Regions from separate parts of the Homo sapiens genome. Here regions 1 and 2 are each linked to region 3. Evidence: fine-mapped expression QTL. A gene starts in region 3. Each other region holds a variant in brackets. All regions are shown on one strand. Distances are from middle to middle.

The links.
Region 1: its variant is fine-mapped to the expression of KCTD7 in macrophages (Nedelec 2016, PIP 0.95).
Region 2: its variant is fine-mapped to the expression of KCTD7 in whole blood (TOPMed, PIP 0.93).

Annotation. Positions count from the first base shown.
Region 1 is chr7:66,548,022-66,552,258 of GRCh38, forward strand. It overlaps the pseudogene RABGEF1P1. Among named protein-coding and RNA genes, the nearest start is that of LINC03011, 57 kb to the left of the region's middle. The variant CA/C (reference allele first, on the strand shown) is at 2,245.
Region 2 is chr7:66,496,233-66,500,469 of GRCh38, forward strand. No RefSeq gene overlaps it. Among named protein-coding and RNA genes, the nearest start is that of LINC03011, 4.7 kb to the left of the region's middle. The variant C/T (reference allele first, on the strand shown) is at 2,527.
Region 3 is chr7:66,626,906-66,631,142 of GRCh38, forward strand. It overlaps KCTD7 (potassium channel tetramerization domain containing 7), which reads left to right and starts at 1,976. Exons shown (of 4, transcript NM_153033.5): 1 at 1,976-2,303. The coding sequence starts at 2,160. RefSeq lists silencers at 557-756, 1,767-2,336.

The DNA.
Region 1 (4,237 bases), 79 kb before region 3:
ATAGCACAACAGCCTGGGCAACAGAGCAAGACTCCATCTCAAAAAAAAAAAAAATTAATTAATTAAAAAATAAATTAGACGGGCATGGTGGTGTGCACCTGCATTCCCAACTACTGGGAAGCTGAGGCAGAAGGACTGATTGAGCCCAGAACTTTGAGGCTGCCGTGAGCTAGGATGGCACCACTGAACTCCAGCCTGGGCAAAAGAGTAAGACTGTCTCAAAAATAGTAATTGATAATAATGCTGTGATGACTATCCACTTGCATAAATCTGGGCACACGTTTCTGATCCCTTGGTCAGACAATATCCTCGCTTTATAGATGAGGACAGCAGACCTGGAGGAATGATTTGCCAGCCCAGGTCCATCGTCCAGGGCCTATATGGGGAATGCTCTGTCGGGACGGTGTGTTCCCCATTTTTATTTCGGTGTTACCAGGCTCCTGCAGCAGCAGCAGCACCACATCTCAGAGGGCAGGTGAGAAGGAGGGGAAAACGGCCAAACGCAATGGCTCATGCCTGTAATCCCAGCACTTTGGGAGGCGGAGGCAGGCAGATCACCTGAGGTCAGGAGTTCAAGACCAGCCTGGCCAACACGGCGAAACCCCGTATCTACTAAAAATATAAAACTTAGCTGGGCGTGGTGGCGGGCACCTGTAGTCCCAGCTACTCAGGAGGCTGAGGCAGGAGAATGGTGTGAACCCAGGAGGTGGAGGCTGCCGTCAGCCAAAATTGTGCCACTGCACTTCGGCCTGGGTGACCAAGCGAGACTCCATCTCAAAAAAAAAAAAAAAAAAAAAAAAAAGGAGGGGAAAACCTCATTTTCTAACTGCCACCTCTTTTCTTTCTTTTTCAGACCCTTTGCAGAAATCTGCAATGATGCCAAGGTGCCAGGTGAGTCGGAGGCAAGGAAGCCACCCTTCTGCCCTGTGGGGACTAGACTGTTCCTTTTGAAAAAAAGGTAGAGCCGGGTGCAGTGGCTCACGCCTATAATCCCAGCACTTTGGGAGGCAAGCAGATCACTTAAGGTCAGGAGTTCAAGACCAGCCTGAGCAACATGGTGAAACCCTATCTCTACTAAAAATACAACAATTAGCTGGGCGTGGTTGTGGGCACCTGCAATCCCAGCTACTTGGGGGACTGAGGCAGGAGAATTGCTGAACCCGGAAGGCGGAGGTTGCAGTGAACTGAGATCACACCCCTGCACTCCAGCCTGGGAGACAGAGCAAGACTCCATCTCAAAAAAAAAATGAAAAAGACAGAGACACCAGGAGTTGGAGGCTGCAGTGAGCTATGATTGTACCACTGCACTCCAGCCTGAGCAACAGAGCAAGACCCTGTCTCTAAAAAAAAAATTTTAATAAATTTTTTAAAGGCAGAGATAGATGTGGTCCAGGTGGGCATGCAATAGATGGCTTACCACCTTGAAAAAAATATAGCCCCTCTCCACCCTGGTGCCTCCCCAGGGAGCCTGAGGTCTCCATGAACAAGGACAGGTATCCCCAAGAGGCCCCCCGAAACCTGCAGGTGCCCTACAGAGGGAAGGCCCTGCCATAGCACCAATGAGTGTATGAGGTCAGCTAGAAGGACAAGAGGCAGGCTGGGCCTCAGGGAGGATCATGGGGGCCTCCTGGGTAGCAGAGGGGTAGCATGTGACTGACAGGGGTGAGGCAGGCGGGCACTGCCAGAGACTGGCTGGACCCCCTCCGTTCTGCTGGCATCTGCAGGGTATACAGAACCTTTCACCAGGCACCTGGGGGCCACCTGGCATGATGGTTCCGATTAAGGTGTATGATAGGACTTGGGAGAAATTACTCACGGGTGACTATGATGTGCACCCGATTAAGAAACACTGTATCCCAGCACTTTGGGAGGCCAAGGCAGGCAGATCACTTGAGAACAGGAGTTCGAGCCCAGACTGACCAACATGGTGAAACCCTGTCTCAACTAAAAATAGAAAAATTAGGGCCAGGCACGGTGGCTCACCCATGTAATCCCAGCACTTTGGGAGGCCAAGGTGGGCGGATCACCTGAGGTCAGGAGTTGGAGACCAGCCTGGTCAACATGGCAAAACCCCATCTCTACTGAAAATACAAAAATTAGCCAGGCATGGTGATGCATGCCTGTAATCCCAGCTACTAGGCGGGCTGAGACAGGAGGATCACTTGAACTTGGGAGGCAGAGGTTGCAGTGAGCCAAGACTGTACCACTGCACTCCAGCCTGGGAAACAGAACAAGACTCTGTCT[CA/C]AAAAAAAAAAAAAAAAAAGAAAAAGAAAAATTAGCCGGCATGGTGGCGCACGCCTGTAGTCCTAGCTACTTGGGCGTTTGAGGTGGGAGGATGGCTTCAGCCCAGGAGGCAGAGGTTGCAGTGAGTCGAGATCACACCACTGCACTCCAAGCTGGATGACAGAGCAGGACTCTGTCTCAAAAAGAAAAAGAAAAAGAAACACTGATTGGCCAGGTGTGGTGGCTCACGTCTCTAATCCCAGCAGTTTGGGAGGCCTAAGTGGGAGGATTGCTTGAGTCCCGGAGTTTGAGACAAACCTGGGCAACATAATGAGACCGTGTCTCTACAAAAAGTTTTTTCTCCCATCCAACTACTAACCAGGCCCAACCCTGCTTCCCTTCTGAGATCAGGCAAGATCAGGCGCATTCAGGGTGGTATGGCCATAGACCAAAAAGTTTTTTCTAAAAATTAGCCAGGCGTGGTAGTAGGCACTTGTAGTCCCAGCTACACAGGAGGCTGAGGCCGGAGGATCACCTGAGCCCCAGAGTTTACGGCTGCAGTGAGCTATGATTATGCCACTGTACTCCTGCCTGGATGACAGAATGAGACCTCATCTCTTCTTTTTTTTCCCCCCAAGACAGAGTCTCGCTCTGTTGCCCAGGCTGGAGTGCAGTGGCACGATCTCGGCTCACTGCAACCTCTGCCTCCTGGGTTCAACTGATTCTCCTGCCTCAGCTTCCCAAGCAGCTGGGATTACATGCACCTGCCACCACGCCCAGCTGTTTTTTCTATTTTTAGTAGAGACAGGGTTTCCCCATGTTGGCCAGGCTGGTCTCGAACTCCTGACCTCATGATCCACCCACCCTGGCTCCCCAAAGTGCTGAGATTACAGGTGTGAGCCACTGCTCCCGGCCTTCTTTTTTTTTCCCAAGACAGAGACTCGCTCTGTCGCTCAGGCTGGAGTCAATCTTGCAATCTTGACTTACTGCAACCTCCACCTCCTGAGTTCAAGCGATTCTCATGCCTTAGCCTCCCGAGTAGCTGAGACTTCAGGCATGCACCACCACACCCAGCTAATTCTTTGTATTTTTAGTAGAGGCGAGGTTTCACCATGTTGGCCAGGCTGGTCTCAAACTCCTGACCTCAAGTGATCCTCCCACCCCAGCATCCCAAAGTGCTGGGATTACAGGTGGGAGCCACTGTGCCTGGCTGAGACCCCATCTCCTAAGAAATAAAAAAGAAGAAGAAAGAAAAAATATTGATCTAATCTTACCCCACCTCATTGTACAGCTGGGAAGCTGAGGTGCAGAGATGCCAGGGACTTGCCCAGGCCACAAAGTGAGTCAGACGCTGTGCAGACCGTGCTGTCAGGACCATCCATCTGAACCACCACAGGGCCCAGTATGGCTGCTCAGCAGGGACAGTGATAGGATTCAGCAAGGCCACGCCACAACCTGGCCTGAGACCCTAGGCCCTGACTCCTGTCAGGACCAGGTTCACCTGGAACTCCACAGCCTGGGGTGGCATAGCCCAGCTAGAAGCCACCTCCTTCCACCAAGAGCTGATCACAAACCTGGGCCATGTAGTGAGACTGCCCCCGTCTCTGCAAAAAAATTAAAAATTAGTCAGGCGTGGTGGCGCGTACCTATTGTCCCAGCTACTCAAGAGGATGAGGCAGGAGGAGTGCTTGAGGCCGGCAGGTGGAGGCTGCAGTGAGCTATGATTGCGCCACTGTGCTCCAGCCTGGGCAACCGGGTGAGACACTGTTTCCCAAAAAAAAAGAGCCAGTTACAAGGGTCAGGCCTGGCACTGAACATACAGATCTGGAGGCGACCTGGTTTGCTCTCAGGTCAAAGGCAGAGACAGGCCGGGCGCGGTGGCTCACGCCTGTAATCCCAACGCTTTGGGAGGCTGAGGCAGGGAGGTGGGTGGATCACCTGAGGTCAGGAGTTCGAGACCAGCCTGGCCAACATGGTGAAGCCCCGTCTCTACTAAAATCCAAAAAAAAAAGA
Region 2 (4,237 bases), 130 kb before region 3:
GTCACCCAGGCTGAGTGCAGTGGTGCAATCGCAACTCATTACAGCCTCAGCCTCCTGGCTCAAGTGATCCTCCCACCTCAGCATCCCTAGTAGCTGGGACTACAGGCGTGCACCAACACACCTGACTAATTTTTGTATTTTTTGTAGAGACAGGGTTTCACCACATTGCCCAGGCCAGTCTCAAATTCCTGGGCTTAAGCAGTCCACTCACCTCAGCCTCCCAAAGTACCGGGATTACAGGCATGAGTGACGGCGCCCAGACTAGGTGGTCTTTTTTCCGGGAAAGGTGTATTTTACCTTCTACACTGAAGATGTAAGTCATGGGGTCTTTTGTGCCATCTGGTGTGAGGTACAGAACAATAAAGGAGGCAGTTAATGTGTAATAAAGATGAGTGATTGGAAGGAGAGTAGGACTAGTCTCTGGTCTCTCATAGTCATTTACCGAATGAAAATAATAAGGAAGGAATAAATTATAATTTAAGAAGCAGAAGTGGCCGGGCGCGGTGGCTCACACCTGTAATCCCAGCACTTTGGGAGGCTGAGGCAGGTGGATCATGAGGTCAGGAGATCGAGACCAGCCTGGCTAACACAGTGAAACCCCGTCTCTACTAAAAACACAAAAAATTTGCTGGGCTTGGTGGCGGGCACCTGTAGTCCCAGCTACTTGGGAGGCTGAGGCAGGAGAATGGCGTGAACCCGGGAGGTGGAGCTTGCAGTGAGCTGAGATCCTGCCACTGCACTCTGACCCGGGCGACAGAGCGAGACTCCGTCTCAAAAAAAAAACAGAAGCAGAAGTTGCAAACATGCTATGTGACTCGGTCAGGGTGTAACTTCCCTCCTGGCATGATAAATTTATAGAGGGTCCTGAAACTTTTTTTTATTTTATAGTTGCTAGGTTCTCTGCACTGTCAATCCCATAACAATTCTTCGAGGTAGATACTGCTATCCACTTTTTGTTTGTTTGTTTTTGAGACAGAGTCTTGTTCTGTCATCCAGGCTGGAGTGCAGTGGCATGATCTCGGCTCACTGCAACCTCTGCCTCCTGGGTTCAAGCAATTCTCCAACCTCAGCCTCCCCAGTAGCTGGGATTACAGGTGCCCACTACCACACCCAGCTAATTTTTGTGTTTTTAATAGAGACCACGTTTCACCTTGTTTACCAGGCTGGTCTCGAACTCCTGGCCTCAGATGATTCACCCGCCTTGGCCTCCCAAAGTGCTGGGATTACAAGCATGAGCCACCACGCCCTGCCCACATTTTAGAAAATGAATTATAAGGCACAGAGAGTTCAAGTACCTTTCCAAAGATGACACAGCTAATTAGACAGCAGACTAGGTGACCTGACCCCAGGACTTTTGCCCTTGACCTCTGCACTACCTTGTTGAGCAGAGCAGTAAATATTTCATACATAGCTTTATCCAGAATTTTCCTGTTGGTTGTGGTAAACCATGTTTTGTTGTTTTGAGACAGGCTCTTCTTCTGTTGCCCAGGCTGCTGGTGTGCAGCGACACAAACACTGCTCACTGCAGCCTTAACCTCCTGGGCTCAGGCTATCCATTTCAGCTTCCGGAAGTGCTGGGATTACAGGAATGTGCCATCATGCCTGGCCTCACACTACATTTTAATGCTTTTTTTGAAAATGAAAACTTTTGGCCAGGCACAGTGACTCTCACCTGTAATCCCAGCACTTTGGGAGGCTGAGGCGGGCGGATCACGAGGTCAGGAGATTGAGACCATCCTGGCTAACATGGTGAAACCCCATCTCTACTAAAAAATACAAAAAATTGGCCAGGCATGGTGGCGGGTGCCTGTAGTCCCAGCTACTTGGGAGGCTGAGGCAGGAGAATGGTGTGAACCCGGGAGGTGGAGCTTGCAGTGAGCCAAGATCATGCCACTGCACTCCAGCCTGGGCAACAGAGTGAGACTCCATCTCAAAAAAAAGAAAATGGAAACTTTTACCAGTGATTCCCTTCCTTCAAACTAATGATAAGGAAATGATGCTGTTCTGTTTTGTTTTCTTTTTGCATGTTTTTTTTTTCTTTTTTGAGAGAGGTTCTTGCTCTGTTGCCCAGGCTGGAGTGAGGTGGCGCAATCATGGCTCACTGCAGCCTCGACCTCCCAGACTCAAGCAATCCTTCCCCCAGCCTCCTAAGTAGCTGAGACTACAGGTTGTGCTACCACAGTTGGCTAATTTTTGTATTTTTTGTAGAGACAGGGTTTCACCATGTTGCCCAGGGTGGTCTCAAACTCCTGGGCTCAGCTATCCTCCACCCTTGGCCTCCCAAAGTGCTGGGATTACAGGCGTGAGCCACTGTACTTGGCTGATGCTGTTCTTTTCAAACGCATATTTACTTTTTTTTTTTTCTTTTTTTTTTTTTTTTTTTTTGAGATGGAGTCTCACTCTGTCTCCCCGGCTGGAGTGCAGTGGTGCAATCTTGACTCACTGCAGCCTGGTCTTGAACTCCTGACCTCAGATGATCCACGTGCCTTGGCATCCCAAAGTGCTGGGATTACAGGTGTGATCCAC[C/T]ACACGTGACGATTTTGCTCATTTTAGATACTAGAACTTGTTAATTAAAAAAAAAAATTTTTTTTTTTGAGCTGGAGTGCAGTGGTGTGATCTCGGCTCACTGCCACCTCCGCCTCCTGGGTTCAAGCGATTCTCCTGCCTCAGCCTCTCGAGTAGCTGGGACTACAGGCACATGCCACCATGCCCAGCTAATTTTTGTATTTTTAGTAGACAGGGTTTCACCATGTTGGCCAGGATGGTCTTGATCTCTTGACCTCGTGATCCGCCTGCCTCGGCCTCCCAAAATGCATGAGCCACTGCACCCGGCCAAAAAAAATGTTTTTTGAGGCAAAATCTTACTCTGTCATGCAGGCTGGAGTACAGTGGCACAGTCACAGCTCACTGCAGCCTCGAATTCCTTGACTCAGGTGATTCTCCCACCATAGTCTCCAAGTATCTGGGACTACAGGTGCACGCCGCCACCACACCCAGCTAATTTTTGTTTGTTTATTTTGTTTTTTGAGATAGAGTCTCACTCTGTTGCCCAGGCTGGAGTGTAGTGGCGCGATCTCGGCTCACTGCAAGCTCTGCCTCCTGGGTTCATGCCATTCTCCTGCCTCCACCTCCTGAGTAGCTGGGACTACAGGCGCCTGCCACCACGTCTGGCTAAATTTTTTGTATTTTTAATAGAGACGAGGTTTCACCATCTATTAAAGCCAAAATGGTCTTGATCTCCTGACCTCGTGATCCGCCGGCCTCAGCCTCCCGAAGTACTGGGATTACAGGCATGAGCCACCGCACCCGGCCCACACCCAGCTAATTTTTTTTTGTATTTTGTAGAGAAAGTGTTTTGCCATATTGCCCAGGCTGGTCTCAAACTCATGGGCTCAAGCGATCTTCCAGCCTCAGCCTCCTAAAGTGCTAGGATTACAGGCATGAGCCACTGCTCCCAACCTTTTTAATTCAATTTAAATTATAAATATGATCGCTATAGAAAATACGTGTATTATTTATCTGCTGCTATGTAACAAATTACTCCAGACCTAGTGGCTGAAAATAAATACTTAGGACCAGGCACAGTGGCTCATGCCTGTAATCCCAACACTTTGAGAGGCCGAGGTGGGAAGATCACTTGCGTCCAGCAGTTTAAGATCAACGTGGGCAACATAGTGAGACTCCATCTCTACAGAAAATGCAAACATTAGCCAGGTGTGATGGTGCACACCTGTGGTCCCAGCTACTTAGGAGGCTGATGTGGGAGAATCACTTGAGCCAGGGAGGGAGAGGTTACAGTGAGCCAAGATCACACCACCACACTCCAGCCTGGGTGACAGAGTGAGACTCTGTCTCAAAAATAAATAAATAAATAAATAAATAAAATATTTACTTAGGAACTCCATTTCTGTGAGTCAGGAATTCAGGAGTGGCATAGCTGGGTCATCTGGGCTCAGGGTGTCTCGTGACATTGCAGTCAAGCTGTCCTCTGAGACTGCAGTCACCTAAAGCCTGTTTCCAAGATGGCTCACTCATGTGACTGCTGACCGGAGGCCTCAGTTCCTGTCACATGAGCCTCCCTACAGGCTGCTTAGGTGTCATGGTGTGACAGCTGGCTTTCCCAAGTGAGTAATCAAAGAGTGAGCAAGGAGGAAGCCATAGTACCTTTTATGATGTAGCTTGCAAAGTTGCAAGCCATCACTTTTGCTTTTTCCTATCTGTCAGAAGGGAATCACGT
Region 3 (4,237 bases):
ATATATATATTTTATTTTTTGTAGAGGCAGGGTCTAACTACGTTGTCCAGGCTGGTCTTGACCTCCTGGGCTCAAGGTATCCTCCCGCCTTGGCTTCCCAAAGTGTCTTCCAGCTATTTTGAAATATACAATCCATTGTTGTTAATTATAGTCACTACTCTGCTTTTGAACCATAGAACATAAACCTTTTTATCTAACTGTATGTCCTTCATTAACCTAAATCTCTTCATTTCTCACCCAACCGTTCCCAGCCTCTGGTTTCTTTCTACTCTCTAAATTTATGAGATCGATTTGTTTTAGCTGCCACAGATAAGAACATGCAATATTTATGTCTTTCTGTGCCTGGCTTATTTCACTTAACATAATGACGTCCATCCACGTTGCTGCAGATGACGTGATTTCATTCCTTTTCATCTGTGTTTAAACAAGGTCTCCCTCCAGGGATTTTGATGCAACTGAAGTTGGAGAAAACACAGACCTAGGACACTCCTGCAGCTGGGAGTGCGATGGTCTAACAGAGGAAGTGCTATGCCACCAGCTCATCTTTGCCATCCTGGAGCTGTCTAATCTACGACTCAGTTTTCTTTTCTGTCACTACACTGTGAGAATGAGATGAGGAACTGGGTGTGAAAACGGTTTGAAAAGGAGAAGCATGGTTGCACACGCCTGCGATCCCAGCACTTTGGGAGGCTGACGAGGGAGGACAGCTTGAGGCAAGGAGTTTGAGACCAGCCTGGGCAACATGACAAGACCCCATTTCTTAAAAAAAAAAAAAAAAAAAAATTTTTTTTTCTTTTTTGAGACGGAGTTTCGCTCTTGTTGCCCAGGTTGGAGTATAGTGGCCGTGATCTCGCCTCACTGCAATCTCCATCTCCTGGGTTCAAGCGATTCTCCTGCCTCAGCCTCCCTAGTAGCTGGGATTGCAGGTGTGCCACCATGCCTGGCTAATTTTGTATTTTTAGTAGAGATGAGGTTTCACCATGTTGGCCAGGCTGGTCTCAACTTCCTGACCTCAGGTGATCCACCCGCATCGCTTACCAAAGAGCCAGGATTACAGGCGTGAGCCACTGCGCCCGGCCAAAATTTTAAAAAATCAGCTGAGTGTGGTGGTGCGCGTCTGTGGTCCCAGCTACTCGGGAGGCTGGGGCGGGAGGATTGCTTGAGCCCAGGGGTTGCAATGAGCTATGATTGCGCCACTGCACTTCAGCCTGGGTAACAGAGTGAGACTTTGTCTTTTAAAGAAAGGAGAAAATGGCTTGAACGGGCTAAGAACCTTGACCCCCAGGAGACTCCCTGCGCTGATAGAGCCTCTAGGGCTGGACTCCGCCTCCCAGGGAGCCGGGAGCATCTTGGGGAAGGGCCTGTCTCCATCTGTGTGTCCCGGTGGAAAAACGGTCACGGTGGGGAGTCACTGTCATTATTCATTGAACTCAAGCGCTCCTATTTTGGGTTTTCTCGTTCGGATTTCTGCGCGAGCGAGTGAGGAAGAACTGGACACCCGGGCGGTGCCCTGCGGCTCGGGGCGGGGCCAGCCGCGGTGGCGTGTCCGCAGCCACCTCAGCCCTCCTCCCGCCACATCCTCCAGGAAAGGCTGCTCAGGCCTTCCATTGAGGAGACAAGGACCCGCTGCTCTGGGGCCAGACACACGAGTAAGTCGTGACCCCCTGTGTGAAGGGATAAGGCGTCTACCCTGACGCGGGTGAGAACCCTCTTCACGGCAGACTCCGACGCCCAGTTATGAGAGCGTAGCGGCGCACCACCGCCGGGTCTCTCGGAGAGGGCGCGCCCGCTGGCCAGAGGACCAATCAGTGCACGGCAGGCTCGCAGGCCGCCCCCCCCCCCCCCCCCCAACCCAGGGACCACTCAGGCGCCGGCCGCTGGCGCTGCCTGCTCTTCGACTGGGCGAGCTTCCTGCCAATCAGGGCGGAACCAGCGCGGCGTCGGCCAGTAGCGGGAGGCGGTCGGGTCAGGCCCCAGCTGGGCGCGAGCGGGTCGGCGTTGAGGGAGCCACCGCCCTCCCGCCTGCGCACTGCCTCTCGCCCCCCTCCGGCCAGCCCGCAGCCGGCCGCGTCATGCCAGGCGCTGCTCGGCGGTAGGGAGTGCCCGGGGCCGCCGCCTCCGCCCGCCCGAAGCCGCGCCCACTGCCCAGAGCCAGAGGGATGGTGGTAGTCACGGGGCGGGAGCCAGACAGCCGTCGTCAGGACGGTGCCATGTCCAGCTCTGACGCCGAAGACGACTTTCTGGAGCCGGCCACGCCGACGGCCACGCAGGCGGGGCACGCGCTGCCCCTGCTGCCACAGGAGGTACCCGGGCGGGCGGCGGGCCGCGGGGCGTGGGGAGGGGCGCGGGGGAGAAGCGGGCGCGGGGCATAGCGGTCCTCGGCGGGTGGGCGGGGCCGGGGTTGGGGGCGGGGCCCGCGGACTTGCGCCCCTCCCCCGCCCACCTGCAACTCCCCCGCCCACCTGCACCCCTACCCACCCACCTTCAACCCCTGTCAATTACACCCACTAGGTGTGCTTCCCCACCCCCTACACCCTCCGCCCAGTAGTCACTGGGGTGATTTACTCCCATCGCCATGTCCCACTTTTACCGAAGACAGGAGGGAGGGTGGGCCGTGGGAGGGGGACCCTGGAGCCCCGAGAGCTGATGGTGTGTCTGACCAGGCACCGTAGCTCGAGCCTGTAATCCCAACACATTGGGAGGGAGGATCGCTTGAGGGCAGGAGTTGGAGGCCAGCCTGGGCAACATAGCGAGGCCCCGTCCCTACTACGACTGGAAAAACAAAGGCATTTTGGGTTGGATGAATAAAAAAAAGAAAAGAAAAAGATGTCTTCTAGAGAATCCAACAGGATGCTGTAGTGGTTGCCCACACCTAGTCTCCAGCTACCTAAGGAACAAGGCAAGGAGCTGTCTGCACATAAGGGGCAGGCCAGTTCATAGATGTAGGCACGGTCACCTGGCATCCCATGGCTTTCACTCACAGGCTGCTGTGCTCTGGTGCACAGGGGCTTCCACGGGTCTTACTTAATGTGTGTGATACTATCATGTCAACACCTGAAATGACACTCAAGAGACGGGAGAAGATACCAGGCATGGTGGCTCACATCTGTAATCTCAGCAGTTTGGGATGCTGAGGTGGGAGGATTGCTTGATCCCAGCAGTTAGAGACTAGTCAGGGCAACAGTGAGACCCTGCCTCTACAAAAATGAAAATTAGCCAGGCTTGGTGGTGTGTGCCTGTAGTCCCAGGTGCTCAGGAAGGTGAGTTGGGAGGATTGCTTGAGCCCTGGAGGTTGAGGCTGCAGTGAGCTGTAATTGTGCCACTGTACTCCAGCCTGGGTGTGATAGAGTAAGACCGTACCTACAAACAAACAAAAACAAAAAAAGCAAGAGAAGGGAAACGATGCCAGGTGTGGTGGCTTACACTTGTAATCCCAGCACTTTGGGAGGTCAAGGCAGGAGGATGGTTTGAGGCCAGGAGTCTGGGACCAGCTTGGGCAACACAGACTCCATCTCTACAAATAAAAAATAAAGAGGAGGGAAGGTGAAGCATTACTGGACACCGAAGATGGCTTCTAGGAGGCAGGGACTAAGGTAGTGCCAGATCCAGGAGCATGTGGTATGCGGAGTCCCAGGACAATGGAGGCCCTCAACAATTGAGGCCCTCAACAGGCTGGGCTAGGTGATGCTCTTGGGAAGCAGATAGTGTTGTGCTGGGATTGCAAGCCCCATACACACAATGCCATGGGAAAATGAGCAAAAATCTAGAAGTAATCTCTGCAATTGGAAAAAAGTCATTAGTCACAGTGGTGCTATTTTTTTGTGCACTGTCATTGGGAAAATGATATGGTTTGAGGGAAAGAGCACAAGACCACAGATTGCAGACCAGGGCCCCACCACCAGTTCCCCCCACTGATGACATTGCCCCATGTGAGCTCCAAAACTGTTTCCGATGGCTTTTGTCCTCTCTGCTTCAATCCTCTCATCTCTAATATGGAGCAAGCACTTGGATTGGTATGAAGTATCTTTAGAAAAGGTTTAAAGAGCTCCAGAAATGTTAAGTATTATTATTCCAAAATGATATCTGAGCCCTTGATATACACATAAAATGGTTTTAGAGGACCTACAGAATAAGCGCAAGGCATTTTCATGTCCTGTGGGTGCAGAAGAGTAACAGTGCATACACACACGGAAGTGTAACTACCTGTCTATTTCTTTCATTCATTCGGTGAATTTTG